Regions from separate parts of the Homo sapiens genome. Here all the other regions are linked to region 1. Evidence: fine-mapped expression QTL. A gene starts in region 1. Each other region holds a variant in brackets. All regions are shown on one strand. Distances are between the middles of the regions. Region 1 holds the start of HMGCL (3-hydroxy-3-methylglutaryl-CoA lyase). Region 2 holds the start of LOC105376860 (a long non-coding RNA gene). Region 3 overlaps CNR2 (cannabinoid receptor 2).

The links. PIP is the estimated chance that this variant, and not a neighbour inherited with it, causes the effect. A credible set is the group of variants that fine-mapping cannot tell apart.
Region 2: its variant is the best candidate, but not a certain one, in a credible set for the expression of HMGCL in whole blood (TOPMed, PIP 0.62).
Region 3: its variant is the best candidate, but not a certain one, in a credible set for the expression of HMGCL in whole blood (TOPMed, PIP 0.87).

Annotation. Positions count from the first base shown.
Region 1 is chr1:23,821,680-23,832,656 of GRCh38, reverse strand. It overlaps HMGCL (3-hydroxy-3-methylglutaryl-CoA lyase), which reads left to right and starts at 7,228. Exons shown (of 9, transcript NM_000191.3): 1 at 7,228-7,301. The coding sequence starts at 7,242. It overlaps LOC105376861 (a long non-coding RNA gene), which reads left to right. Exons shown (of 3, transcript XR_947068.2): 2 at 6,474-6,573; 3 at 7,069-7,117. RefSeq lists an enhancer at 6,359-7,227.
Region 2 is chr1:23,791,639-23,797,014 of GRCh38, reverse strand. It overlaps LYPLA2 (lysophospholipase 2), which reads right to left. Exons shown (of 10, transcript NM_007260.3): 2 at 4,255-4,358; 3 at 3,976-4,007; 4 at 3,799-3,864; 5 at 3,263-3,310; 6 at 3,085-3,155; 7 at 2,879-2,952; 8 at 2,690-2,791; 9 at 2,415-2,588; 10 at 1,476-2,333. The coding sequence starts at 4,332. The coding sequence ends at 2,283. It overlaps GALE (UDP-galactose-4-epimerase), which reads left to right. Exons shown (of 12, transcript NM_001008216.2): 8 at 73-139; 9 at 233-318; 10 at 429-506; 11 at 750-864; 12 at 1,008-1,416. The coding sequence ends at 1,066. LOC105376860 (a long non-coding RNA gene) reads left to right here and starts at 3,483. Exons shown (of 2, transcript XR_947067.3): 1 at 3,483-3,543. The variant G/A (reference allele first, on the strand shown) is at 1,904.
Region 3 is chr1:23,874,129-23,885,105 of GRCh38, reverse strand. CNR2 (cannabinoid receptor 2) reads left to right here. Exons shown (of 2, transcript NM_001841.3): 2 at 9,444-10,977. The coding sequence starts at 9,489. The coding sequence ends at 10,571. It also overlaps the pseudogene LOC124904841. Among named protein-coding and RNA genes, the nearest start is that of FUCA1, 11 kb to the right of the region's middle. The variant G/A (reference allele first, on the strand shown) is at 4,433.

The DNA.
Region 1 (10,977 bases):
TCCACTACTGTAAAAAGTCTGCTATTGCTCTCACAGGATTTGCAGAAAGGCAGATGTTGGATTTAAACATTATTATTCCCACTTGCAGAAGAGATGTCATCTGCTTTTAAGGAAAAGCTATAAACAGAAATTTGCTGTTGTGCATTAGAAATGCAATCTGAGGCCAGGCGTGGTGGCTCATGCCTGTAATTTCAGCACTTTGGGAGGCCGAGGCGGGTGGATCACCTGAGGTCAGGAGTTTGAGACCACCAGCCTGACCAATATGGTGAAACCCCGTCTCTACAAAAATTAGCCAGGTGTGGTGGTGGGCACCTGTAGTCCCAGCTATTGGGGAGGCTGAGACAGGAGAATTTCTTGAACCCAGGAGGTGGTGGTTGCAGTGAGCCAAGATCACGCCACTGCATTCCTGCCTGGCGACAGAGCAAGACTCCGTCTCATTAAAAAAAAAAAAATTAAAAAGAAAAAAAAAAGTCCTGGGAAAAAAAACTATTACCATAAAATCTGAAGGTCTGAGAAAGGTGCACAGAATTGTGGTGAATCTTATTTACTACTGCGGTCTTAGCACCTAGCACCAACTTGTGCCTTAATCACAGCAGCCATCTCTTTTAGTAATTTGGAGAGAAAGGAAGAGGAAAGAGGGAATAGTGTTATCATGTAGCAAAGAAAGCATTCTCTAGAGTCAGATTTGGGTCTGAACTTACCTACCATACATGATCTTAGAAAAGTTATTTAATGTCTCTTAAGCCTCCGTTTCCTCATTTCTCAGATGGAAAGAGTAACATTTATGTTGCAGAGTCTGATTACTCATGAAAAGTTACTATATATCACAACCAATACAGAAAATATACTTAATAAATGGTAGGGGCTATTGTTAATAATTATTGTAAGCTTTGTAATTGAGGGTGGGTTACAATGCAAAAAAGGAAACATCTTGGTTAAAATAAGATTCCAACTAAGGGTGACCCTGAGCAAAGTCTGTAACAGTTGCTAGTGTTACTCTTTCAGTATTTACTTCATGCCACCAAATGTGCCTGGTATTGGAGACACCACATTCAACAACCAGTTAAAGTCTCTGCCCTTTAGTTTAGACATTTGCCTCAGAGCTGTGCTTGTAAGTTATTTACTTTTGAGAATTTGCCAACAAGGGCTTTTAGGGGGGCAAACAGAGGAAGGAGAGAAGCCTCGTGTCTGTGACAATTAGGAGTAGTAGGGACTGGGGAGCTGGCAAGGGTATGCCTTGCCTAAGTCTTTTTTTCTTGTGCAGTTACTTATTTTTTTTTATTGTTTAAAATATATATAGCATAAAGTTTACCATTTTAATTCAGTGCCATTAAGTACATTCACATTGTTATACAACCATCTCCACTATCCAGAACTCCTTCATATCCCAAACTGAAATTCTGTACCCATTAAACAATAACTCCCAATTTCTTTCCACTCCCAGCCCCCAATAACTACTATTCAACTTTCTTTCTCTATGAATTTGACTATAATAAAGTCCTCATTGTAATAGTTAGGATTCTCCAGAGAAACAAAACCAATAAAAGATGATATATAGGCCGGACCCAGTGGCTCACGCCTGTAATCCCAACACTTTTGGAGGCTGCTGGAGCACCTGAGGTTAGGAGTTCAAGACCAGCCTGGCCAACATGGTGAAACCCCGTCTCTATTAAAAAAAAATGCAAAAATTAGCCAGGCGTGTTGTTGGGTGCCTGTAGTCCCAGCTACTCGGTAGGCTGAGGCGGGAGAATCGCTTGACCCGTGGAGGTTGCAGTGAGCCAAGATCGCGCCACTGCACTCCAGCCTGGGCAACAAGAGCAAAACTCTATCTTAAAAAAAAAAAAAAAAAAGATATGTATATGTATGAAATATGATCTGCTGTCAGCAAGCTGGAGACCAAAAAAAGCCAGTGAGGTGTAGCTCCAGTTGAAGCCCAGGGGCCTGAGAATGAGAGGAACCAATGGTGTAGTGTAAGTCCCAGTCTGAATGTAGAAGAGAGAATTCTTCCTTCCCCACCTTTTTGTTCTATTCAGGCCTTCGAAGAATTGGATGATGCCCCCCACATTGAGGGAGTAATCTGCTTTACTCCCTTTACTGATTCAAATGCTAACCTCATTCAGAAATGCCCTCACAGACACACCCGGAAATAATGTGTAGTCAAATATTTGGATACCCTGTGGCCTAGTCAAGTTGACACATAAAATTAACCATCACACCCACATAAGTGGAATCATGAAATTTGCCCTTTTGTGTCTGGCTTAGCAGAATATTTTTAAGGTTTATCCATGTTGCAACATGTGTCAGAATTGTATATCTTTTCAAGAATGAGTAACTATTGTAGGTATACAATATAGCACATTTTGTTCATCCATTTATCTGTTAATGCACATGTGCGTTCTGTACGCCTTTTGGCCATCACAGATAATGTTACTATGAGCAACATTATTGCTCATTGTGTTAGACAGGGTTCTCCAGAGAAACAGAACCAATAGGAGAGTTTTTATATATATATATATATATATATATATATATATATATATATACACACACACACACATATGCATATATAATAAGTATATTATATATAAATATACTATATAAAAATATATAATTATAAATAAAATAAAATATAATATATTTATTATATAATTTGTTATATAATAATTTATAAGTATATATTATATATTAATATATTTAAAATTATATATGTAAATTTATATATACATAAAAGCTACTCAGGAGGCTGAGGTGGGAGGGTCACCTGAGCCCAGGGAGGTGGAGGCTGCAGTGAGCTGTGATTGCACCACTGCACTCCAGCCTAGGTGACACAGTAAGACCCTGTCTCAAAAAAAAAAAAAAAATTAGGCTGGGCGCGGTGGCTCACACCTGTAATCCCAGCACTTTGGGAGGCCAAGGTGGATGGATCACTTGAGGTCAGCAGTTCGAGACCACCCTGACCAACATGGTGAAACCCCATCTCTACTAAAAATACAAAAATTGGCCAGGTGTGGTGGTGTATGCCTGTAATCCCAGCTTCTCGGGAGGCTGAAGCATGAAAATTGCTTGAACCCAGGAGGCGGAGGTTGCAGCGAGCTGAGATTGCACCACTGCACTGCAGCCAGGGTGATAGAGTGAGACTCAGTCTCAAAAAAATAAATAAATAAAACAAAAATAAAAACAAACATTACCATATGATCCAGGAATTTCACTTCTAGAAATATACTGAAAATAATTGCAAACAAGGAATTAAACAGATATTCACATACCAATAATGTTGCTATGTTGCTCATAAATATATATTCTTGTATATACAGAATATAAATATATATGTATATTTATAAATAAATTTATATTCTATACATTCTATATATAAATATATAAATAAATATATTTATATTCTGTATATACAAGAATATGTATTTATGAGGAACATAGCAACACTATTGGTATATGTACATATGTTTAAGTCCATGTTTTCAATTATTTTGGGTATATTCCTAGAAGTGAAATTCCTGGATCATATGGTAATTTTTATTTTTATTTTTTATATTTTTTCAGACAGGGTCTCACTGTCACCTAGGTTGGAGTGCAGTGGTGCAATCACAGCTCACTGCAGCTTCCACCTCCCTGACATTTTAACAATATTAAGTCTTCTTGGCTGGGTGCTGGGACTCACATCTTTAATCTCAACACTTTGGGGCACCAAAACAAGAAAGATCACTTGAGCCCAGGAGTTCAAGACCAGCCTGGGCAACATGGCAAGACCATTGTCGGCCAAAAAATTTAAAACTTAGCTGGTTGTGATGGTGCATGCACCAGTGGTCCCGGCTACTCAGGAGGCTGAGGTGGGAGGATGGCTTGAGTGCAGGAGGCTGAGGCTACAGTGAGCTATGATTGCACTATTACACTCCAGCCTGGGCAAGAGAATGAGTGAGACCCCATCTAAAAAAAAAAAAAAAAGGCTGGGTGTGGTGGCTCACGCCTGTAATTCCAGCACTTTGGGAGGCCGAGGAGAGCGGATGACTTGAGGTCAGGAGTTTGAGACCAGCCTGGCCAACATGGTGAAACCCCGTCTGTACTAAAAATACAAAAATTAGCTGGGCGTAGTGGCAGGTGCCTGTAATCCCAGCTACTCGGGAACCTGAGGCAGGAGAATCGCTTGAACCCGGGAGGCGGAGGTTGCAGTGAGTCGAGATTGCGCCTCTGCACTCCAGCCTGGGTGACAGAGTGAGACTCTGTCTCAAAAATAAATAAATAAGTAAACAAACAATAAAATAAATAACAATAAAAATAAATTAAAAATTAAAAAATTCAAAGCAAAAGCAAACAAACTAAAAAACAGTATTAAGTCTTCCAATTCATGAACATGGGATGTCCTACCACTATGTCTTCTTTAATTTTTTTCACCAATGGTTTATAATTTTCAGTGTACAAGTCTTGAAAGACATATTTTAAATAATACCATGCCAGTATGTTTGGGCCGAGTGCAGCCCTCTAACACAGGTTTGAGAATTCTGTGAGTAATGCTCCCAGTGTCATGATAGAGAAAATTTCCAGTGCTGCTGAAGCCTAACAGAATAATTATCATGTCTTGTTTTTTCCCTAGATAAAATCTGAGCTCCTTAAAGTCAAGGAAAGTGCCTTCACTGCCTTCCCTGAGAATACCAGACACACAATTAACATCCAACCAGTAGCCCCTGTGACTATTTAAAAATGCAAATTCAATCAGATTTCCCTACTCTAAATCATTCAAAATCACTGCTATTAGGACAGCTGGTATTAGTGTGTTCACCAAAGCCCTGTGACAGTTCCTGCCAAACTCTCCAATCTTAGTAGGAAGTCCCCTTCCTACTCCCTCCCCGCTCTCCAATCATTCCAGCCTTCTTTTCATCTTGCTAAAAAGGTGTTTTCAAACAATTCCAAGTGCAGCCCACAGTAAGAAATTTATTTTACATTGCAACCTTGTTGATATATATAATGAACAAAAGTTTTGCAAAGCAGTACTTGGCTTTACTACTTTTATACATTGTATTCTAATATTTTTCTTATTTATTATTATTATTTATTTAGTTTTTAGACAGAGACTCGTTCTGTCACTCAGGCTGAAGTGCAGTGGCGTGATCTCGGCTCACTGCAACCTCCGCCTCCCAGGTTCAAGTGATTCTCCTGTCTCAGCCTCCTGAGTAGCTGGGATTACAGGCACGCACCACCATGCCCAGCTAATTTTTGTATTTTTAGTAGAGACGGGGTTTCACCATGTTGGTCAGGCTGGTCTCGAACTCCTGACCTCAAGTGATCCGCCCACCTCGGCCTCCCAAAGTGTTGGGATTACAGGCATGAGCCACCACACCTGGCTATTTTTCTTATTTATTGAATAGACTTGGGGTCTCACTTTATTGGCCAGAGTGGTCTTCAAGTTCTGACCTCAAGTGATCCTCCCACCTCGACCTCCCAAAGTGCTGGAATTACTGGTGTAAGCCACTGCACCCAGCCTTTTCTCTTTTATTATTATTTTTATTTTTTTAGATCACTCTTTTATTATTTTATAGAGCAATATTTTATATTTGGGGCCTGGCACAGTGGCTCACGCCTGTAATCCCAGCACTTTGGGAGGCCGAGGAGGGTGGATTGCTTCAGCCCAGGCCAACATGGTGAAATCCTCCATCTCTACTAAAAATACAAACATTATCTGGGCACGGTGATGGGCACTTGTAATCCCAGCTACTCCGGAGGCTGAGGCAGGAGAATCGCTTGAACCCCGGGGTCAGAGGTTGCAGTGAGCCGAGATCACGCCACCGCACTCCAGCCTGGGCAACACAGTGAGACTTCGTCTTAATAAATAAATATAGATGGATAGATAGATAGATAGATAGATAGATAGATAGATAGATGATAGATAGATAAAATTCTAGTTCTTTGTTTTAAATAAAGTTTGTACCCACTAAATTGATACTGTGACCAATTAGTGGGGTACAACATACAGTTTGAAAACAGTGCTCTGGCCGGGGGCGGTGGCTCTCGCCTGTAATCCCAGCATTTTGGGAGGCCAAGGCGGGCGGATCACCTGAGGTCAGGAATTTGAGACCAGCCTGGCCAACACGGTGAAACCTCGTTTCTACTAAAAACACTAAAATTAGCCAGGCGTGGTGGTGCACACCTGTAATCCCAGCTACTCGGGAGACTGAGGCACGAGACTCTCTTGAACTCGGGAGGCGGAGGTTGCAGTGAGCCGAAATCGCGCCACTGCACTCCAACCTGGGTGACAGAGTGAGACTCCATCTCAAACAAACAAAACAAACCAACAAAACAAAAGAGAGAAAAACAGTGTTCTCAGCATTTTCTTTGCCTCAGGGCCATTGCGAATGCTACACCGTCTGGAAAGTTTTTCTTGTATCCTCTTCACCTGGATAGATTTTTTTTTTTTTCAGCCCTTCAGAAAGTACACCTAGATAAATCTTAATCATTTTTTTAAGGTATGAAATCTAAGGATGCCCCCTCTCTGGAGCTGCCTGCCTGTGTTTGAATCCTGAAGATCGTGATGCGTGAGTTAATCCGTGCTAAGAACTCGGAACAGTGAGTAGCAAATCGTTGCTTCTTATAGTGCAAGTTAGAAATGACACAACTGTTTGTGTAACTATTAATATGTGTCTCCTCACACCTCCCACACTCTAAACACAAGAAGCCACAGAATTTGGTTAATTTCTTTTCATGTTTTTGTTTGTTTGGTTTTGGGTTTTTTGTTTTGGACAGGCTCTCACTGTGTCGCCCAGGCTGGAGTGCAGTGGCACGATCTCCGCTCGCTGCAACCTCGCCTCCCGGGTTCAAACAATTCTCCTGCCTCAGCTTCCCAAGTAGCTGGGATTACAGGCGCCCACCACCACGCCCGGCTTTTTTTTTTTTTTTTTTTTTTTTTTTTTTTTTTTGGATTTTTTGGAGAGACGGGGGTTTCGCCATGTTAGCCAGGCTGGTCTCGAATTCCTGACCTCAGGTGATCTACCCGCCTCGGTCTCCCAAAGTGCTAGGATTACATGGTGTCCAGGCTGATTCTGTTCATCTTTATATTCCTAGCGTCTCACTTGGCCTGGCATGGAAGAGGCGCTCGGAATCAAAACGGAGAGAGGCTGGGGGTGGAGCCAGCTTCGGAAGTCACGGCGGAGGGGCGGGGGCGGGGCCGCGCCCACCAGACGAGCCATCGGTCACGCGGGGCCCAGCTGGACTGCCGCGGGGGATTCTGGGCCAAGATGGCAGCAATGAGGAAGGCGCTTCCGCGGCGACTGGTGGGCTTGGCGTCCCTCCGGGCTGTAAGTGCCCCGAGCCGCCGAGGCGGCGGCCCTGCAGGCACTCTGACTGTCAGGGTTGGGGGCTTGGCCCGTGGTGACTGCTCTCTTAGAGGCGAGGCCGGACAGCTCTCAGGCCAGAGTCGGGAGGGCGTTGGAGTCCTGGACCCTCCCTTTTCCCCTCAAATCCTTTGAAGGGGATGGGAAAACTGAGGTCCGGAGAGGTGGAGTGACTTGTCTGGGTCATGGAGACCTGGGACGCCATCCTAGGTGCCCTGATTCCCCGCCCAGGGCCCTTTCCGATGACCCTGGCCCCTTTCTCCCTCTAATTGAACTTCAGACCTCTCCAACTCTTCATTAGTGAAAATCAAGAACACGCTTCCATTTCCTTCGTCTCCATTTCCAACTGTTGTTGCTTTTAGAGATGCTTGGGGAACTATCCCAGCCTACCGAGCGGGACTTGCGTTGATTGGAGCCAAGCTGTGATTCCCTTGGAATTGCACTTTGATCCTGTTCGATCCTGATGTTTTCCCCTCTCCCATTCTCAGCGCAGAAAAAGTGTGGGAGACGTAGCTGTATGGAGCAGAAAAAATAAAAGCTGAAGCTAGGGTGTCCCAATAGTTCTGCCACTTTCTAGACTTAATGACATAGTTATTTACTTTCTCTAAACCTCAGCTCTTTCGTCTGTAAAACGGACAACATTCCCTTGGGGTTGTTTTGGAAATTAGAGAAAATGTAAGTAACACATCTGGCAGTGTTCTGGCTCCTAATAAGTGATCAGTCGGTGGTGGTATTTTTACCTTAGGGAGTTGAGAAGGAGTTATAACTGTATAGAGGGAAAAATACACTCCTGGCACTGGGTCCCTCTCAGAAAGCCACGTTAATATCTTTACTTGGCCATTCACCTGCACCACCTGCTCATGTGTAAAATGAAGATGGCAATTCCAACTTGGAAAGTTAAACGCAATAGTAGATATTAATAAGCTTTTAAGAAATATTTGGTGTAATGAGATGGCCCTCCATGGGGTTCCAAGCATAGGAACCAGTATTAGTATTAGGCCTAGATATGGGTTCAAGTCCAAGCTCTGTCACTTTCTAATTGTGATTTTTGGGTAACCTTTCTGAGGCTTAGTTTCTTCACCTACGGAGTTGGGATAATAATAGTCCCTGGCCTGTAGTTTAACACTGGGTTTAGTCAGTATTCGCTGTTGGTGTTGATGCAGGTACACCATACCTCAGGACACTGTGGCACAGTACTTGTGTGGTTAGGGGGACCCTCTCTGAGCAGAGCTTTACAGAGGAGGAACGGGATGTTTAACCAGGAGAAGACTGTGGACCGAACGAACGGTGGTAAAGAGGCAACAGTGGCCCAGAGGTTAGGAGCTTGTGCTCTAGAGCCACACTGCCAGGTTTAGATATTGCCTCAGTGAGTAACTCCCCATGTCACCTCGGGAAGATTACTTAATCTCTTTGGGTCTCAGATTTCTTTTCTTTTCTTTCTTTTTTTTTTTCCTGAGACGGTGTCTTGCTCTGTCATCTGTCACCCAGACTGGAGTGCAGTGGCTCAATCTCAGCTCACTGCAACCTCTGCCTCCCAGGTTCAAGCGATTCTTCTGCCTCAGCCTCCCAAGTGGGGCCTTAGATTTCTTACAGTAAAATGGGGATGATGATAGTTCCTACCTGATAAGATTGTTGAGAGGACAGTATGGGTTAATATGTAAATGGCTCACCAGGCGTGGTGGCTCATGCCTATAATCCTAGCACTTTGGGAGGCTGAGGTGGGTGGATCACTTGAGGTCGGGAGTTCGGGACCAGCCTGGCCAACCTGGTGAAATCCTGTCTCTACTAAAATACAAAAAATTAGCCAGGTGTGGTGGTGCGCACCTGTAGTCCCAGCTACTCGGGAGGCTGAGGCAGGAGAATCACTTGAACCTGGGAGGTGAAGGTTGCAGTGAGCCAAGATCGCGCCACTGCTCTCCAGCCTGGAGACAGAATGAGACTGTATCTCAAATAAATAAATAAATAAATAAATATGTAAATGGCTCTTGTATGTGCCTGGCAAATATTAAGTGTTTAAAAACTGAATTATTATGTGAAGAGCTGTTACGGGGAAGGAAGGAAGTGGAATTGAGTTTATAATGTTCTAATAAAAGCAGCTTGGAAGCAGGTTTTAGAAGCTTTTTTTTTTTTTTTTTTTTTTGAGATGAAGAAGTCTCGCTCTTGTACCCCAGGCTGGAGTACAATGGCACGATCTCAGCTCACTGCAACCTCCTCCTCCTGGGTTCAAGCAATTCTCCTGCCTCAGCCTCCCGAGTAGCTGGGATTGCAGGCACCTGCTGCCATGCCTAGCTAATTTATGTGTTTTTAGTAGAGATAGGGCTTCACCATGTTGGCTAGGCTGGTCTCGAACTTCTGACCTCAGGTGATCTGCCCACCTCGGCCTCCCAAAGTGCTGGGATTACAGGCGTGAGCCACCACGCTTGGCCTGAAGCAGGTTTTAGATTATTTCAGCAACACTCAACTGTTATTTATCGAGCCCCTATTATGTCCCAGGGCCTTAGAAATACAGCATTGAATAAAACAAAGTCCCTGTCTCATGAAACTTATGTTCCAGTGAGATAGTTTTAGGGTGATATACTAGCAGAGGCTGAACATCCCTGTTGGAGGGAGATTCAAGTTGCAGGGACCTTCCAACTTAGCCTGTTGACGTCATGAAATTCAATGGCTCATCGCCTTAGTCTCTAAGAAAGCTTGTTGGCTAAAACAAGGCCAGTCAGGTGAGTTGTACATGTTCCAGCTGCTTCCTAGCAGGGAATTCCTGGGGGACTTCAGGGGGTTGAGATCCTTAGCGGATCACACAGTGTGCCTTCCGCTTTGCCTCGTTGTAGTATATTTATCCAGATTAAATCTGTAAAACAAAGTTGATTTGAAAAGTTACAGTATCAAGACAGGTAGAGGAAAGAGGAAAAAAAAAGTATTGTGTTACTTGATAGGGAAGACTAAGATTTTGAGCTGACTTTATATAGAGGAGACTCAGGGCATTTTGTAAAAACTGTCTTCAGCTACTGGGGGTGTCACCTCCCCTTAGACCCATGCTTGTCATCACCCAGCCTATGACTGTAACAGAAGAGAGCCCTCCTGCATCTCGCCCATACCCCGAAAAGTCCAGGACTGACTACTCCTCCCCACACTCAGTAATTGCTCTCTTCTGGGACAGCTGTGTCCTTCATGGTTTATGTGTTATTTTAATAACTTTAAAGAGTGGCTACTTTGTACCAAACACGGTGCCAAACACTAGGGATGAAGTGGAGTTGAGACAGACAAGGTCCCTCAAAGAGCTTATGTTCTACTGGAAGAGACATTGAGTAGGCATTCTTTATCGTGCTTTGAAGGAAATAATTATAGCTCTGCAATAGCGAAAATAATGGGGGTGGGAGGAATGGCAGCTTTGCAAAGGGTGGTCAGAGGAAGCCTCTCTGCAACTGAAAGATGAGAGAGAGATGTAAGAACAGCCAGTTTTTTTAAAAAAAGCCAGATGAGGAACCCTGGGGCAGAGGGAAGAGAAGGCAGGGAGCTTAGCAACCTGTTGGGTGGAGGTTGGGAGTGGACAGTAGGGGCGAGTGATGATTCCAGGAGGTCAGAGGAGGCAACTCATACAGTCTTTTCTTTTCTTAATTGGAAAGCATCAAGTGACATATAG
Region 2 (5,376 bases), 33 kb after region 1:
ACAGAGGAGTGGCCCTGGGGTTAAAGCTGGTGCCTGGGATCTGGGACGAACTGACCTGATCTCCACCTCCAGGTGGCGATCGGGCGACGGGAGGCCCTGAATGTCTTTGGCAATGACTATGACACAGAGGATGGCACAGGTGAGCCTAGGACCAGGGGGACCTAGGAGTGGGAGCCAGGAAGGAGAGTCAGGGGGAACAGACTCCCCATCCAACACACTCCCTTCTCTGCAGGTGTCCGGGATTACATCCATGTCGTGGATCTGGCCAAGGGCCACATTGCAGCCTTAAGGAAGCTGAAAGAACAGTGTGGCTGCCGGGTAGGAAGAGAAGGGAGAAGTGAGGGAGGGGAGGGACCAGATCCAGGCAGAGCGGCCCAGAGGCGTGGTCAGTCCAGCCCGCTCCATAAACCCTGTTCTCCGTGGGCCAGATCTACAACCTGGGCACGGGCACAGGCTATTCAGTGCTGCAGATGGTCCAGGCTATGGAGAAGGCCTCTGGGAAGAAGGTAGGCCCCCCCGCCCCACCCACCTCACCCACCTCACCCCACCCAGCTCTCAGCAACAGAGCAGCTTTGGCCCTTCCCACTCACCTCTCTGGAGGGTACCTGGCACTGCCCAGTCTCCTCAGCCTGCCTAGCACCCGGTGCCTGCGGGCCAGCCGCTGCTCTGCACTTCTGCTTCTTAAAGACCTGGCCAGCAGCTGGGCCAGGGCCGGCTCAGCTAAGCTCCAACTACCTCCTGTCTTGCAGATCCCGTACAAGGTGGTGGCACGGCGGGAAGGTGATGTGGCAGCCTGTTACGCCAACCCCAGCCTGGCCCAAGAGGAGCTGGGGTGGACAGCAGCCTTAGGGCTGGACAGGATGTGTGAGTGCTGGCCTGACCCCTGCAGTTAGGGGCCAGGGAGGGGCTAAATCAGATCTGGGCATGCCCACCCAGGGCGGGCTGTGGGGTGGGGGAGGCTCTGCATTCCACCGTGGGCCCTGAGCACACACCTCGCCGTGTTGCAGGTGAGGATCTCTGGCGCTGGCAGAAGCAGAATCCTTCAGGCTTTGGCACGCAAGCCTGAGGACCCTCCCCTACCAAGGACCAGGAAAAGCAGCAGCTGCCTGCTCTCCAGCCTCTGGCAGGAACTCAGGGCCCTGGAGCTGCTGGGGCCAAGCCAAGGCCTCCCCTACCTCAAACCCCAGCTGGGCCCGCTTAGCCCACCAGGCATGAGGCCAAGGGCTCCACTGACCAGGAGGCCGAGGTCTCTAACTCTTATCTTCCACAGGGTCCAAGAGTTCATCAGGACCCCCAAGAGTGAGTGAGGGGGCAAGGCTCTGGCACAAAACCTCCTCCTCCCAGGCACTCATTTATATTGCTCTGAAAGAGCTTTCCAAAGTATTTAAAAATAAAAACAAGTTTTCTTACACTGGGGCAGGTTCTCACAGATGGTCACTATCCACCCCTGGAATAGAATCAGCCAGGCCTGAGCGTTGAGGAAGCAATTTCTTTAATTTTATCGGAATCCAGGACACAACAAGAAAAACACCCAAAAACCACATGGAGACAGAAGACGAGACACAACTCCTCCCCCACTGCCTCCCTGCTCTAGAGTGGGGACAAAGTGGGGGTGAGACAGCTGGGGGGAGACCTGAACCTCAGTCCAGCCCTACAGGCTCCAGGCCTGCAGGGAAGGAGGGTAACGGGGAGGCAGGGCCCAGCCCCCCAGTGTGGGGAAACAGCTGAGGGAAGGCCCCCCTCAAAAGGCTCCACCTCCTCACCAGCACTCCTGCCCAGGGACAGGGAGCCCACAGCAGCAAGGGGACCCCGGGGCCATGGCCACATTCATGACTGAGAAGCAGCTGAGTGGAGGCAGGAGACACGATTATCTGGGCAGAATCAGTTGGGGCAGGGGCCTGGG[G/A]GGGCCCCATGGGCCAAACCCTGAGGTCACAGGAGGGGGCCCAAAGCGGGGCTAGTGAGTGAGGTCCTGAGTGAGTGGGTCAGCGGCTGGGCCCCTTTCTCCAGCTGCCTGTAGCCCCTCCAATACTGCTGCCAGGGGGGCCCGCCTCCAGGGAAATGGATAAGAAAGCAGCCTGCCCCTGCTGCAGACAGAGCCAGGTGGCTAAGGCCAGGAAGGAAGGCCCGGCCAGGCCTTGCCACCTGCCCCCAGAGGCCTGTGGGAAAAGGACAGGTCAGGAAGGGTGGGGACAGGGGCTCGACCGGCTCAGATCCAAGATGGTGCCACGCTTGCTTGCTGAGTCCCCCATGAGCTGGGGTACTGCACTGGGGCCAGCGACTAGTTAGACAGGAGGCAGCAGCTTCTCAAGAAATTCCTTCACAGCTGCCATCTCCTGAGGGGATTAAGAGGGGATCACGAGAGGCACCTGGCTGGAGGCAGAGAAGTGGGAGTGGGAAATGGTCCCCCCACTGACCTGAGGACAGGAGCTGTGCATGACACCCGGGTATGTCTTGAACTGGACCCTGGCAGGTGTGACAACAGACCGGAGCTTCTCAGCCGTCAGGGCCCCAAACCGTACGGGCACCATGGGGTCCAGCTCCCCATGGCACTGGAGTATGGCCAGGTCCTTGGCACTGCCATTAGCTGCCTGGAGGCCGGACAGGACTCAGGGCAAAGCTAGTGCTGCAGCAGTCCCCAAGCCACGAGGATGCAGACACAAAGGGCGGGGGGGTCAGTGGGGACATTCACCTGGGGGAAGGCCCGGTGCAGAGGCAGCCAGCAGCTCAACGCCACGATGCCAGCCAGAGGGTGGGGGCAGGTGAGGGCCGTGTAGAGGGACAGGGCCCCGCCCTGGAGGGAGGAGAGAGAGGGGTCATGAGGGCACAGCTCACTCACCGGCCACCCCTACCCCCTACCCCCCCACCCCTCTCCCCTCACCTGTGAAAAGCCTCCCAGGACGATTCGATTGGCAGGGATCCCGTTCTTCATTTCATGCTCAATCAAGGCCTTGACTGGGGGAGGGGGCATGAGTGGGTAGAGGGAAGCTGCCAAGGGGCCCAATAAGGGAGCTAGGCTGAGGAACCGCCCAGCGCTTTCCTGGGGGGCAGGGGAAGGAGGATGTGGAGGAGGGGCTGGGGTCTTACTGTTCTCTGCTGCCTTCTTGATGCCAGCCTCGTCCTCTGGGGCATCTGGACTCAGCCCCATCAGGTCAAACCTTGGGAGTAGAGGCACTGGCAGCTATAGAAAACCCCAGCCAGCCCCCTGTGGCTCCCTCAGCCCAAGTGTCCTCGTCCCCCTGCCCACCCCCACTCCCAAACTCACCAGGAGGGCATCACCATCTTCATGTTGAGGGTCACAGGGATCCTAGGCCTGGGGAAAGAGAGCCAGAGGGCCCATCATGCTCAGGAGGAATGAGGAGGCCAGAGCTCAGAGCCCGGAGTGGGGCCGCGCCGCCCCTGGTGGCCCCTCCCAGCAGGCAGGGCCTGTGTTTAAGGTGTTGCCAGGCAACCTGCCACGTGGGGCTGGAGGCTGTGGTTGGGGCAAAGCGCCAGTAATGGAGAAGCAGAGCCCAGCGCTTGGTGTGACGGGGTCCCAGGTAGTCGGTGAGTACTTGGGGAAGGGGCAAAGGGAGGTGTGGGTTCTAGGAGAGCTCAGGTCTAGGAGGCCCTAGGGCTGGGGGCTGGTGCTGGACCCCACTCCTGGGGGCTCCACAGGAGCTCAGGCTGAAAATGCCACTTCTGACTGCCCTGAGCCCAAGCCCCAGGATGCAACTGACAGGAGAGAACAGGCCTGGGATGACAGGACCACCCCCAGATGATCCCCAGCCTCAGCCCCTCCCTTGCTGGGGTGACACTCACGCATGGGGACAGATGTACTTGACGTGAGGGAGCCGGATGGTGGAGAGGGCGTCAGCCCAGCTGTGCCTGTAGGAGGGACGGGAGAAAAGGCTCCGATGTGGTAGGAAGAGAAGGCCTCTCCAGTCCGCTGCTGGGCCAGGACCCCTCCTTAAGGAGCACCCCTCCTCAGTCACTTACCCTGTGTCTCCAAGTCCATGTAAAAAAATAACCTGGAAAAGGATGGGAAATGGGGAGACAGGAAGGCTTCCCCTAGGTCCTCCAACTTCTGCCCACCCCTCCCCCACCCCCAAGGACCTGGGGGAACCCAGGTAGCAGCCAAACAGGTTACTACCCCGAGCCTGCTGGCCTCAGGATACTCCCTGCTCATCACTGCCACCTCCATTTTCCCACACCCCCTCCAGCCGGTCCTCCAGCTGCTCCCACAGTGTCTGGCCGTGGGTGAAAGGGGACCCTTACCGCGGCCGTTTCCCGCTCAGCTCCAGACACGGTGGCAGCATCGGTGAGCAGGGGCACAGACATGGTGTTACCACACATACACCACACGGCTCCACGGCGGGGGCCTGCATACATCGGGGCGGCGGTCAAGAGCAAAACCAGGCACAGGACACACTCCTGGCCCAAGAGGCCACCAGGCCATCAGCCCCACACAGCACCCAGGTTCTGTCCTGGGCACAAAGAATAGTCAAGCAAGAAGTCCCAGGGCACAGGAGAAGAAGTCTGCCTCAGTTCCAGGGCTGAAAGGCAGAGACAGCCTCCCTAGTGGCCCAGAACATGTGTCTCTGGTTCTGGCCCAACCACAGGACCTGAGCTTGCTGGAGACAGGCAGAGGCAGGGCATAGGGACTGTAGGGCAGGGGGCAGAGGGGAGGCAGCGGCACGCCTGCTTCATTCCCCCTCTAACTCCTCAGGGGTGAGTGCCTTCCCCCTCCTCTCCAATCATCCCTGGGTCCCTGCCTCCCCAACTCCGGGCCCTATGGGAAATGGAGAGAAAAGTGCCAGGGAAAGGAGCTTCCATCCCCTACTCAGTGCCGCCTCCAACCCCCATCTCAACCTCCCCCCACCCAGCCCCCATCCAGCCTTCACAGCAGTTTCTGGCCCATCCATTCCCAGACCCCCAGGGGGCTGCCCATGTCCCCAGAAAGCGTAAGAACTCCACCCACCCCCAAACTGGTGCTCCACGCCCCCCCTAAACGGAGCTACCTGCTGCTGCTGCCACTGACTGCAAACGAGCCCTGGCTTGACCACGCTCTGGGACTCCCAAACACACAAAAGAATGTCAGGCTGGCTGGCCCCTCCCCATCCTCGGCGTCCTCCAAACTCGCCGGAAGCTTCCACTACCTGCCTCAAGTGCCTGCCCACCCCTCCCAACTGGCCTCACCTTCCATCTCTGACCCCTGAGGGCAGCTCCCCACAATGGGATCGTTCACCTGTGACCCGGGGTTCCTCTTCCCATGGGGAATGCACCTCCTGCCCTGAGCTGCGATTCCCTTCCTTCTCCACCGTGGGGACTTGCACCTCCCGCCCAGGCTCCCTCCTCGGAGGGGTGCCTTCCCCCTGACCTGTCTCTCTCTATACACCT
Region 3 (10,977 bases), 52 kb before region 1:
TTTTGAGGCCGGGCATGGTGGCTCATGCCTGTAACCCCAGCATTTTGGGAGGCCGAGGTGGGTGGATCACGAGGTCAGGAGTTCAAGACCAGCATGGCCAAGATGGTGAAACCCCACCTCTACTAAAAACACAAAAAATTAGCCAGGCACAGTGGCAGACGCCTGTGATCCCAGCTACTCGGGAGGCTGAGGCCGGAGAACCGCTTGAACTCGGAAGGTGGAGGTTGCAGTGAGTTGAGATCATGCCACTGCACTCCAGCCTGGGCGACAGAGTGAGACTCTATCTCAAAAAAAAAAAAAATTGTTTTTGAGCACCTGCTATGCAGCAAGCATTGTGCTGAGCCACTAAAGGTCCAGAAATAATAAAGCCTTAGTTCTGACCTCGACCAGCCGTGTGGCCTCAGCCCAATGCTTTAACATTGCCGACCTTTTATTATCTGTGAAATAGCAATAAGCATAACTCTAATATCATAGAGTTGCGGGGATTAAACTAGATGGTCAGCTGGGCATGGTGGCTCACACTTGTAATCCCAGCACTTTGGGAGGCTGAATCGGGTGGATCATTTGAGGTCAGGAGTTCGATACCAGCCTGGCCAACATGGTGAAACCCCGTCTCTGCTAAAAATACAAAAATTAGCTAGGTGTGGTGGTGTGTGCCTGTAATCCCAGCTACTTGGGAGGCTGAGGCATGAGAATCGGTTGAACCCAGGAGGCAGAGGCTGCAGTGAGCCGAGATCGCGCCACTACACTCCAGCCTGGAATCCCAGCACTTTGGGAGGCCAAGGCGCGCAGATCACTTGAAGCCAGGAGTTCGAGACCAGCCTGACCAACAACCCCGTCTCTACTAAAAATACAAAAATTAGCCAGGCATGGTGGCAGGTGCCTGTAATCCCAGCTACTCGGGAGGCTGAGGCACAAGAATCGCTTTAACTCGGGAGGCAGAGTTTGCAGTGAGCCGAGATTGTGCCACTGCACTCCAGCCTGGGCGACAGAGTGAGACTCTGTCTCAAAAAAAACAAAAACAAAAAAAGACATAAAGATGTCTATAGAGAGGCACAGATTTTTCCTTTTGCCTCAGGCAAGGCTCGGTTTTCAACTCCAGTCTGGGGAAAATCCCTCCAGATTCTCTAAAATGTTATATTCCTGCCTGCAAGTTCTCTTCACTTTTATCTACTCATAAATCCTCTAAACTCTCCTTAAGGATTAGGCTTTACAAGGGATTGGCCCAACACTGTGGGGGGTTTTTTTGTTTTTGTTTTTTTGTTGTTTGTTTGTTTTTTGGAGATGGAGTCTTGCTCTGTCACCCAGACTGGAGTGCAGTGGTGCAATCTCAGCTCACTGCAACCTCCGCCTCCCGGGTTCAAGCGATTCTCCTGCCTCAGCCTCCCAAGTAGGTGGGACTACAGGCGCACACCACCATGCCTGGCTAATTTTTTGTATTTTAGTAGAGACAGGGTTTCACCGTGTTGCCAAGGCTGGTCTTGAGCTCCTGAGCTCAGGCAATTCGCCTGTTTCGGCCTCCCAAAGTGCTAGGATTACAAGCATGAGCTACCACGCCCGGCCTAACACTGTTTTTAAGATTCATCATTGTTGGCACGTTTTCACCACTTTGTGGTATTCCTTCGTATGGCTGTATTACAACTTATTTATCCATTTTCCAGTTGATGGACATTTAGAATTGTTCTTCTATTTCAAAAATGCCAAAGAGAACATTCTTGTACATGCCTCCCTGGACGCACCTGCAGGAGTTCCTCCAGAACGTATTCCCGGGACTGCAATTGATGTATCGTCAACTTCACCAGATTTTGCCAAGCTGCTCTTCAAAGTGTCTGTGTCAACTTACACCCCCATCGCAATGAGAGTTCTTTTGGCTCCACGCCTTCTCCAGCACTCAGTATTGTCAGCCTTACTTTTTTACCGATCTGATGGGAGTGAAACACATTTCTCTGTCTACTATTGAGGTTACGCATCTTTTCAAAGGATTATTGACCATTTCTCTCTCATGCCCTGTATTTTTCTTCATTGTGGTTGCTCTCCTTTTTCCTTTAGTAATCTTGCCTGTGGTCATCTATTTTATAATCTTTTCAAACAGCCAGCTTTGACTTTGTCAGTTCTTTCTCTTCCCTATAGTTTTGCCATGTCATTAATTTCTGCTCTTATTATTTCTGTCTTCTGCTTTCTTTGAATGTATGCCATGGCCCTTCTTCTAATTTCATGAGTTGCATGATGAGCTCATGAGGCTTTTTTATCTTGTAGTATGAGCGTTTATTATTAATTTATTTATTGAGAACAGAGTCTCGCTCTGTTGTCCAGGCTGGAGTGCAGTGGCACAATCTTGGTTCACTGAAACCTCCGCCTCCCAGGTTCAAGCGATTCTCCTGCCTCTGCCTCCCAAGTAGCTGGGATTATAGGCACCAGCCATCATGCGGGCTAATTTTTTTTTTTTTTTTTTTTGTATTTTTAGTAGAGGCGGGGTTTCACCATGTTGGCTAGGCTAGTCTGAAACTCCTGACCTCAGGTGATCCACCCGCCTTGGCCTCCCAAAGTGCTGGGATTACAGGTGTAAGCCACCGCACCTGATAGTATCAGCATTTAGAGCTGTAAATTTCCCTTTGCATACGACTCAGATGAATCTCACACATTTTAATGTCTCACAATTTCGTAGTCATTCAATGCCAAGTATCTTCTAATCGCCTTTATGAATTTTTGACCCAGGAATTGTTCAAAAGTGTGTCTTTTTTTCTTTTTTCACACATCAGACTGGTAACGTGACAATGTCATCATAGGTTTGAGGAACATCTCACACGTGAGCGTGAAAACCAGTCATCACGCTTATGAACTACGAAGGGATCCCGAAGTGTGTTTTTAAAGATCCATACCTGAGGCCAGGCACGGTAGCTCATGCCTATAATCCCAGCACTTTGGAAGGCCAAGGTGGGCAGATAACCTGAGGTCAAGAGTTCGAGACCAGCCTGGCCAGTATGGTGAAACCCCATCTCTACTAAAAATACAAAAAATTAGCTGGTCGTGGTGGCAGGCACCTGTAATCCCAGCTACTTGGGAGGCTGAGGCAGGAGAATCGCTTGAACCTGGGAGGTGGAGGTTGCAGTGAGCCAAGACTGCTCCACTGCACTCCAGCCTGGGCACAACAGTGAGACTCCATCTCAAGAAAAAGATCCATACCTATGAACTTTGTTAGTAATTTTTTTTTTTAAAGACAAAGTTTCGCTCTCGTTGCCCAGGCTGGAGTGCAATGGCACGATCTTGGCTCACCGAAACCTCCGCCTTCCCAAGTTCAAGCGATTCTCCTGCCTCAGCCTCCCGACTAGCTGGAATCACAGGCAGGCACCACCATGCCCAGCTAATTTTTTGTATTTTTAGTAGAGACGAGGTTTCTTCACGTTGGTCAGGCTGATCTCGAACTCCCTACCTCAGGTGATCCGCCCGCCTCGGCCTCCAAAGGGCTGGGATTACAGGTGTGAGCCACCATGCCCGGCCTAGCAATTTTTTTTTTCTTTTTTTGAGACAGGGTTTCACTCTGTTGCCCAGGCTGGAGTGTAGTGATGCTCATTGCAGCCTCCGCCTCCTAGGTTCAAACGATTCTCCTGCCTCAACCACCTCAGTAGCTGGGATTACAGGTGTGCACCACCAGGCCTGGTTAATTTTTGTATTTTTAGTAGAGATGGGGTTTATTAGAGACAGGCTGGTCTCAAACTCCTGGCCTCATGTGATCTGCCCGCCTCGGCCTCTCAAAGTGTTGGGATTATAGGCATGAGCCACCATGCCCAACCAGTAATTTTTTAAAATTATTATTATTACATATATTTTTTGAGACGGAGTCTCACTCTGTCACCCAGGCTGGAGTGCAATGGTGTGATTTTGGCTCACTGCAAACTCCGCCTCCTGGGTTCAAGCGATTCTCCTGCCTCAGCCTCCCGAGTAGCTGGGATTACAGGTGCCTGCCACCATGCCCAGCTGATTTTTGTATTTTTAGTAGAGATGGAGTTTCACCATGTTGGCCAGGCTGGTCTCTAACTCTTGACCTCAGGTGATCTGCCCGCCTTGGTCTCCCAAAGTGCTGGGATTACAGGTGTAAGCCACCACGCCCAGCCTTAATTATTAATTTCTAAATAAATTTTATGTGGTCAGAATACAATTTTATACAACAGATCATTTTATATTAATTTATATTTATAATTATATTTAAATTATATGTAATATGTTAATTTATATTTAAATTACATATATAAACTATAGGCTGGGTGTGGTGGCTCACATCTGTGATCCCAGCACTTTACGTGAGGTCAGGAGTTTGAGACCAGCCTGGCCAACATGGTGAAACGCCATCTCTACTAAAAATATATATATTAAAAAAAGCCATGCCTGGTGGCAGGCACCTGTAATCCCAGCTACTCAGGAAGCTGAAGCAGGA[G/A]AATCACTTGAACCCTGGAGGCGGAGGTTGCAATGAGCCAAGATCGCGCCATTGCACTCCAGCCTGGGTGACAAGAGTGAAACTCCATCTCAAAAAAATAAAAACTAAAAATAATACATTTTATATATTAGAAGGTGATAGTGGTATGGAAAAAATAAAGACGAGGTCAGTGTAAAGAAAAGCAAAAGAGCTGGAGGTTGGGCTAGGTGCAGTGGCTCATGCCTGTAATCCCAGCACTTTGGGAGGCTAAGGCGGGCAGATCACGAGGTCAGATCAAGACCAGCCTGACTAACACGGTGAAACCCCGTCTCTACTAAAAATATGAAAACTTAGCCGGGCATGGTAGTATGCGCCTGTAGTCCCAGCTACTCGGGAGGCTGAGGCAAGAGAAAGGCTTCAACCTGGGAGGCGGAGGTTGCAGTGAGCCGAGATTGTGCCACTGCACTCCAGCCTAGGTGACAGAGTGAGACTCCGTCTCAAAAAAAAAAGAGTTGGAAGTTGGGATGAGTTAGGGTATTACATGGGGTAGTCAGGGTAGGTGTCATTGAAAAAGTAAGATCTGGGCAAAGACTTAAACAAGGTGAGAGCAAGCCAAGTAAATGTTGAGGGAAAGGTGATCCAGGAAAAGGGAACAGCCAGTGCAAAGGACCTGTGGCTGAAGAGAAGACTGATTAAGAAGCCAATGTGGCTAAAGCTGGGTCACCAAGGGAATCATGGTAGAAGGGACCATAACACTAAGGACTTTGGCTTTTACATAGTGGACTAGGGAGCTATGCAGGGTTTGGGACAGAGAAATGACAAGATCCTATATTTTTAAAGGATCACCCTGACTGCTATGTTGAAACTAGATTAGAAATGGGCCTGATTAAAAGCAGGGGGCCCAGTTAGGAAGCTATTGCAATAAACCAGATAAGAGATGATGCCTGGTTTTTTTTTTAAGCCTAAAATTAATCAATGTCTTTACCCACTTCCTAGATAAAGCTTTAACTCTATTCATCTCTTTCTTGTCTTGCATTTTTGTCATTCACAATTTTATTTCTACTTTGTTTTTGTTTTTGTTTGAAACAAGGTCTCATTCTGTCACCCACACTGGAGTGTGGTGGCACAATCATAGATCACTGCACACTGGACCACCTGGGCTGAAGTAATCCTTTGACCTCAGCCTCCCAGGTAAATGGGAATACAGGCATATGTCACCACGCCTGGCTAAATTTTTATGTCTTGTAGAGATGGGTTTCACCATGTTGCTTAGGCTGGTCTTGAACTCCTGGGCTCAAGCAATCCTCCTGCCTTGGACTCCCAAAGTGCCAGGATTTCAGGCATGAGCCACTGTGCCCAGTCTCCACTTTGGTTTTGTTTGTTTGTTTTGTTTTGTTTTTTGAAACAGAGTCTCACTCTGTCACCCAGGCTGGAGTGCAGTGGCATGATCTCGGCTCACTGCAACCTCTGCCTCCCAGGTTCAAGCAATTCTCCTGCCTCAGTCTCCTGAGTAGCTGGGACTACAGGTGCACACCACCACGCCTGGCTAATTTTTGTGTTTTTAGTAAAGATGGGCATAAATTACTCACTATTATCATTGTTGTTTTATAAAGCCATTTGCTTTTCTTTACTCATATTTGTCAACTTACTTGCTCACTATTCTTTCTTGCCGTTCTTTTCTTCCCTTTGGGTTGAATTTCCTTCTAAAATGCACATTCTTTAGATGTTCCTTCAGTGAAAGTCTGTTAGTGAACAATTTTCTTTGAATTTTTTAGACCTCATTCTTGAATGATAGTTTAGCTGGGTATAAAATTCTAGACTGACAGTTTTTTCTTTATTTTTTGGCTTCTATTGTTGCTGATCAGAAATCTGCTCTTAAAATTAATTATGGTTCTCTTACAGGTAATTTGGCTTTTCATTCTTACTGCCTTATATTTTTCTTTGTCTTTGGTATTCTGATATGTATGCTATATGATATACATGAACATGGAATGTGTTTTTAAAAATTCTACTTGGGGCTGGGTGTGGTGGCTCACGCCTATAATCCCAGCACTTTGGGAGGCCGAGGTGGGCATATCACCTGAGGCCAGGAGTTCAAGCCCAGCCTGGCCAACATGGAAAACCCCTTTTCTACTAAAAATACAAAAATTAGCTGGGCATGGTGGTGCACACCTGTAGTCTCAGCTATGTCAGGAGGCTGAAGCTGGAGAATCACTTGAACCTGGGAACTCTGTCTCAAAAAAAAAAAAATTCTGCTTTGGGTTCCCTGTGATTTCCAAATCTGAATAGTCTTATTTTTCATGGATCCTGAATAATTCTTTTTTGTTGTTGAGGCAGGGTCTCATTCTGTTGCCCAGGCTGCAGTGCAATGGCATGATCATGGCTCACTGAAGCCTTGGCCTCCCTGGGCTCAAGTGATCCTCCCACCTCAGCCTCCCAAGTAGCTGAGACAATAGGCATGCACCACCATCCAGCTAATTTTTGTATTTTTTTGTAGAGATGGGGTTTTCCCATGTTGCCCAGGCTGGATGGATAATTCTTTACTACTACCTCTTTGACTATTGCCCACCACCAGTTTTCTCTGTTTATCCTCTCTAACACTCCTCTGAGATATAAACATTTTTACTCAATCCTTCATAACTCTTAACTTCTCTTTCTTGTTTTCCATCACTTTATCTCTTTGTTCTGCATTGTGAGAAATTTCTTCAGAGCTACATTCTTTTTTTTTTTTTTGAGATGGAGTTTCACTCTTATCGCCCAGGCTGCTGTGCAGTGGTGCGATCTCAGCTCACTGCAATCTTTGCATCCGGGGTTCAAGCGATTCTCCTGCCTCAGCCTCCTGAGTAGCTGGCATTACAGGTGTCCACCATCGTGCCCGGCTAATTTTTGTATTTTTAGTAGAGACAGGGTTTCATCATGTTAGCCAGGCTAGTCTTGAACTCCTGACCTCAGGTGATCCATCACTTCAGCCTCCCAAAATGTTGGGATTACAGGCGTGAGCCACTGTGCCCAGCCCCAGATCTACTTTCTTTTTTTTTCTTTTTATTTTTTTTGAGATGGAGTCTTGCTCTGTTGCCCAGGCTGGAGTGCAGTGGCGCCATCTCGGCTCTCGGCTCACTGCAAGCTCCGCCTCCCGGGTTCACGCCATTCTCCTGCCTCAGCCTCCTGAGTAGCTGAGACTACAGGCACCTGCCACCATGCCCAGCTAATTTTTTGTATTTTTAGTAGAGACGAGGTTTCACCGTGTTAGCCAGGATGGTCTCAATCTCCTGACCTCATGATCCACCCACCTTGACCTCCCAAAGTGCTGGGATTACAGGCGTGAGCCACCGTGCCCGGCCACCAGATCTACGTTCTAGATCAATGCTTTTCAGTTGTTCTGTTTTGCTCTTTAACTCATCCCTTAAGGATCTCTTTTTTCAATGATTTTATTTTTGACTTCCAGAAATTCTACTTGAATCTTTTTCAGATCTACCCAGAAACAATCTCTCATTCTGTACTCATGTTTTTAATTCTTTATTGTTTTTATATCAGACTTTTTTTTTAAGGTATACCCAAGAATTATATGAAGTTATTGAAAGTGGAATTCTACTGTCTGACGTTTCTGCTGACTCTTGCTCATGTTTCCTTATGCATTTTGCATTGTGAACTCAAATTTCACGGGCCTTTATATGTGGTATTCCTATACAACCTGTTTAGAAAGTGAATCGCTCCAAATAAATGTTTAGTTTGCTTTCTAATAATGTCTAATAATAAACCGTACAATATCTAGGTTCCTGAGGGTTTTTTCTTCAATATTTGTGACATATACTAAAAAGTTACTTCTTATTGACATTCATCTTTTTTTTTTTTTTTTTTTTGAGACAGAGTCTTGCTCTGTCGCCCAGGCTGGAGTGCAATGGCACAGTCTCGGCTCACTGCAACCTCTGCCTCCTGGGTTCAAGCAATTCTCCTGCCTCAGCATCCCAAGTAGCTGGGACTACAGGCACGTGCCATCACGCCCAGCTAATTTTTTGTATTTTTAGTAGAGACGGGGTTTCACCATGTTAACCAGGATGTTCTCGATCTCCTGACCTCATGATCCGCCTTCCTTAGCCTCCCCAAGTGTTGGGATTACAGGCGTGAACCACCGTGCCCAGCCAACATTCAAATTTAACTGGACTCCTATATTTTATCTAGTATAAAATGTTTTGGCCAGGCGCAGTGGCTCATGCCTGTAATTCCAGCACTTTAGGAGGCTGAGGTGGGTGGATCACCTCAGATCAGGAGTTCGAGACCAGCTGGCCAACATGGTGAAACCCGGTCTCTACTAAAAGTACAAAAATTAGCCAGGTGTGGTGGGTGCCTGTAGTCCCAGCTACTTGGGAGGCTGAGGCAGGAGAATCTCTTGTGCCTGGGAGGCAGAGGTTACAGTGAGCCGAGATCACACCACTGCACTCCAGCCTGGGCAACAGAGCAAGACTTTGTCTCAAAAATAAATAAATAAATAAATAAATAAAAATTAAAATAAAATAAATTGTTTAATCTTCTGTACTTTCTCTTCCCATCACTTGATGTTAAGCCAAATTCATAAATCCCATCCCCAAATAGTTGTTAAAACTTCAGTACTTTACTTGCCGAAATTGGCAAATTAACAAAACAAAATGTAAAACAAACAAAAAAACCCTCAACCTTATCACTCTAGATTCCATTTCTTCTTGGTTTTGATTTCCTCTTGGTTTTGACCTTTTGGGATTTCCCTTGCTTCAAAAGGAAGTCTTAGGATTAGTCTTTTGGAAAATGGAAGGCCAAAAATCTCACAAGTCACTTCTGCTTGTTGCATTCCCACGTACCTCCCCTGAGGCAGCCAGGACAGATCTGGCTTCCTGCTTGGATGGAGAAAGGGCAAAATACAGGCAAACAAAACAGAAACTGATTTTCCCACATAGAATCCATCCATACAGGTAGCAGTTTTGGCTACAGTCAGTTATCAGGTGAGGTCATTCTTGTGCTTACTGAAAAAGATTATTTTCTTCTTCTCATTGTACTGCAGCAAAGCCTTCTAGACAAGCTCAGTGGAATCTGAAGGGCCCACCCCATGGAGGAATGCTGGGTGACAGAGATAGCCAATGGCTCCAAGGATGGCTTGGATTCCAACCCTATGAAGGATTACATGATCCTGAGTGGTCCCCAGAAGACAGCTGTTGCTGTGTTGTGCACTCTTCTGGGCCTGCTAAGTGCCCTGGAGAACGTGGCTGTGCTCTATCTGATCCTGTCCTCCCACCAACTCCGCCGGAAGCCCTCATACCTGTTCATTGGCAGCTTGGCTGGGGCTGACTTCCTGGCCAGTGTGGTCTTTGCATGCAGCTTTGTGAATTTCCATGTTTTCCATGGTGTGGATTCCAAGGCTGTCTTCCTGCTGAAGATTGGCAGCGTGACTATGACCTTCACAGCCTCTGTGGGTAGCCTCCTGCTGACCGCCATTGACCGATACCTCTGCCTGCGCTATCCACCTTCCTACAAAGCTCTGCTCACCCGTGGAAGGGCACTGGTGACCCTGGGCATCATGTGGGTCCTCTCAGCACTAGTCTCCTACCTGCCCCTCATGGGATGGACTTGCTGTCCCAGGCCCTGCTCTGAGCTTTTCCCACTGATCCCCAATGACTACCTGCTGAGCTGGCTCCTGTTCATCGCCTTCCTCTTTTCCGGAATCATCTACACCTATGGGCATGTTCTCTGGAAGGCCCATCAGCATGTGGCCAGCTTGTCTGGCCACCAGGACAGGCAGGTGCCAGGAATGGCCCGAATGAGGCTGGATGTGAGGTTGGCCAAGACCCTAGGGCTAGTGTTGGCTGTGCTCCTCATCTGTTGGTTCCCAGTGCTGGCCCTCATGGCCCACAGCCTGGCCACTACGCTCAGTGACCAGGTCAAGAAGGCCTTTGCTTTCTGCTCCATGCTGTGCCTCATCAACTCCATGGTCAACCCTGTCATCTATGCTCTACGGAGTGGAGAGATCCGCTCCTCTGCCCATCACTGCCTGGCTCACTGGAAGAAGTGTGTGAGGGGCCTTGGGTCAGAGGCAAAAGAAGAAGCCCCGAGATCCTCAGTCACCGAGACAGAGGCTGATGGGAAAATCACTCCGTGGCCAGATTCCAGAGATCTAGACCTCTCTGATTGCTGATGAGGCCTCTTCCCAATTTAAACAACTCAAGTCAGAAATCAGTTCACTCCCTGGAAGAGAGAGAGGGGTCTTGGCACTCTCTTCTTACTTAAACCAGTCCCAGACACCTAGACACGGACCCCTTTTTGCTGATGAGTGTTGGGACTGACTCCTGGAAGACAGCCTGGCCTTGCCCACCTGCACACAGTCTGTTGGATAGGTAGGGCCACGAGGAGTAGCCAGGTAGGCGAGACACAAAAGGCCTGGGACAGGGTCAGTACAAGTCAGGTCAGGCTTCATGCCTGCATCCTCCAGAGACCACAGGAGCCAAAGCGAGCCTCCAGGCCCAGCAATGAGGGACTTGGGAGAAATCTGAGAAGAATGGGTTGTTCTCTTGGGAAGTCAGGGTATCAGATGGGATGGACAT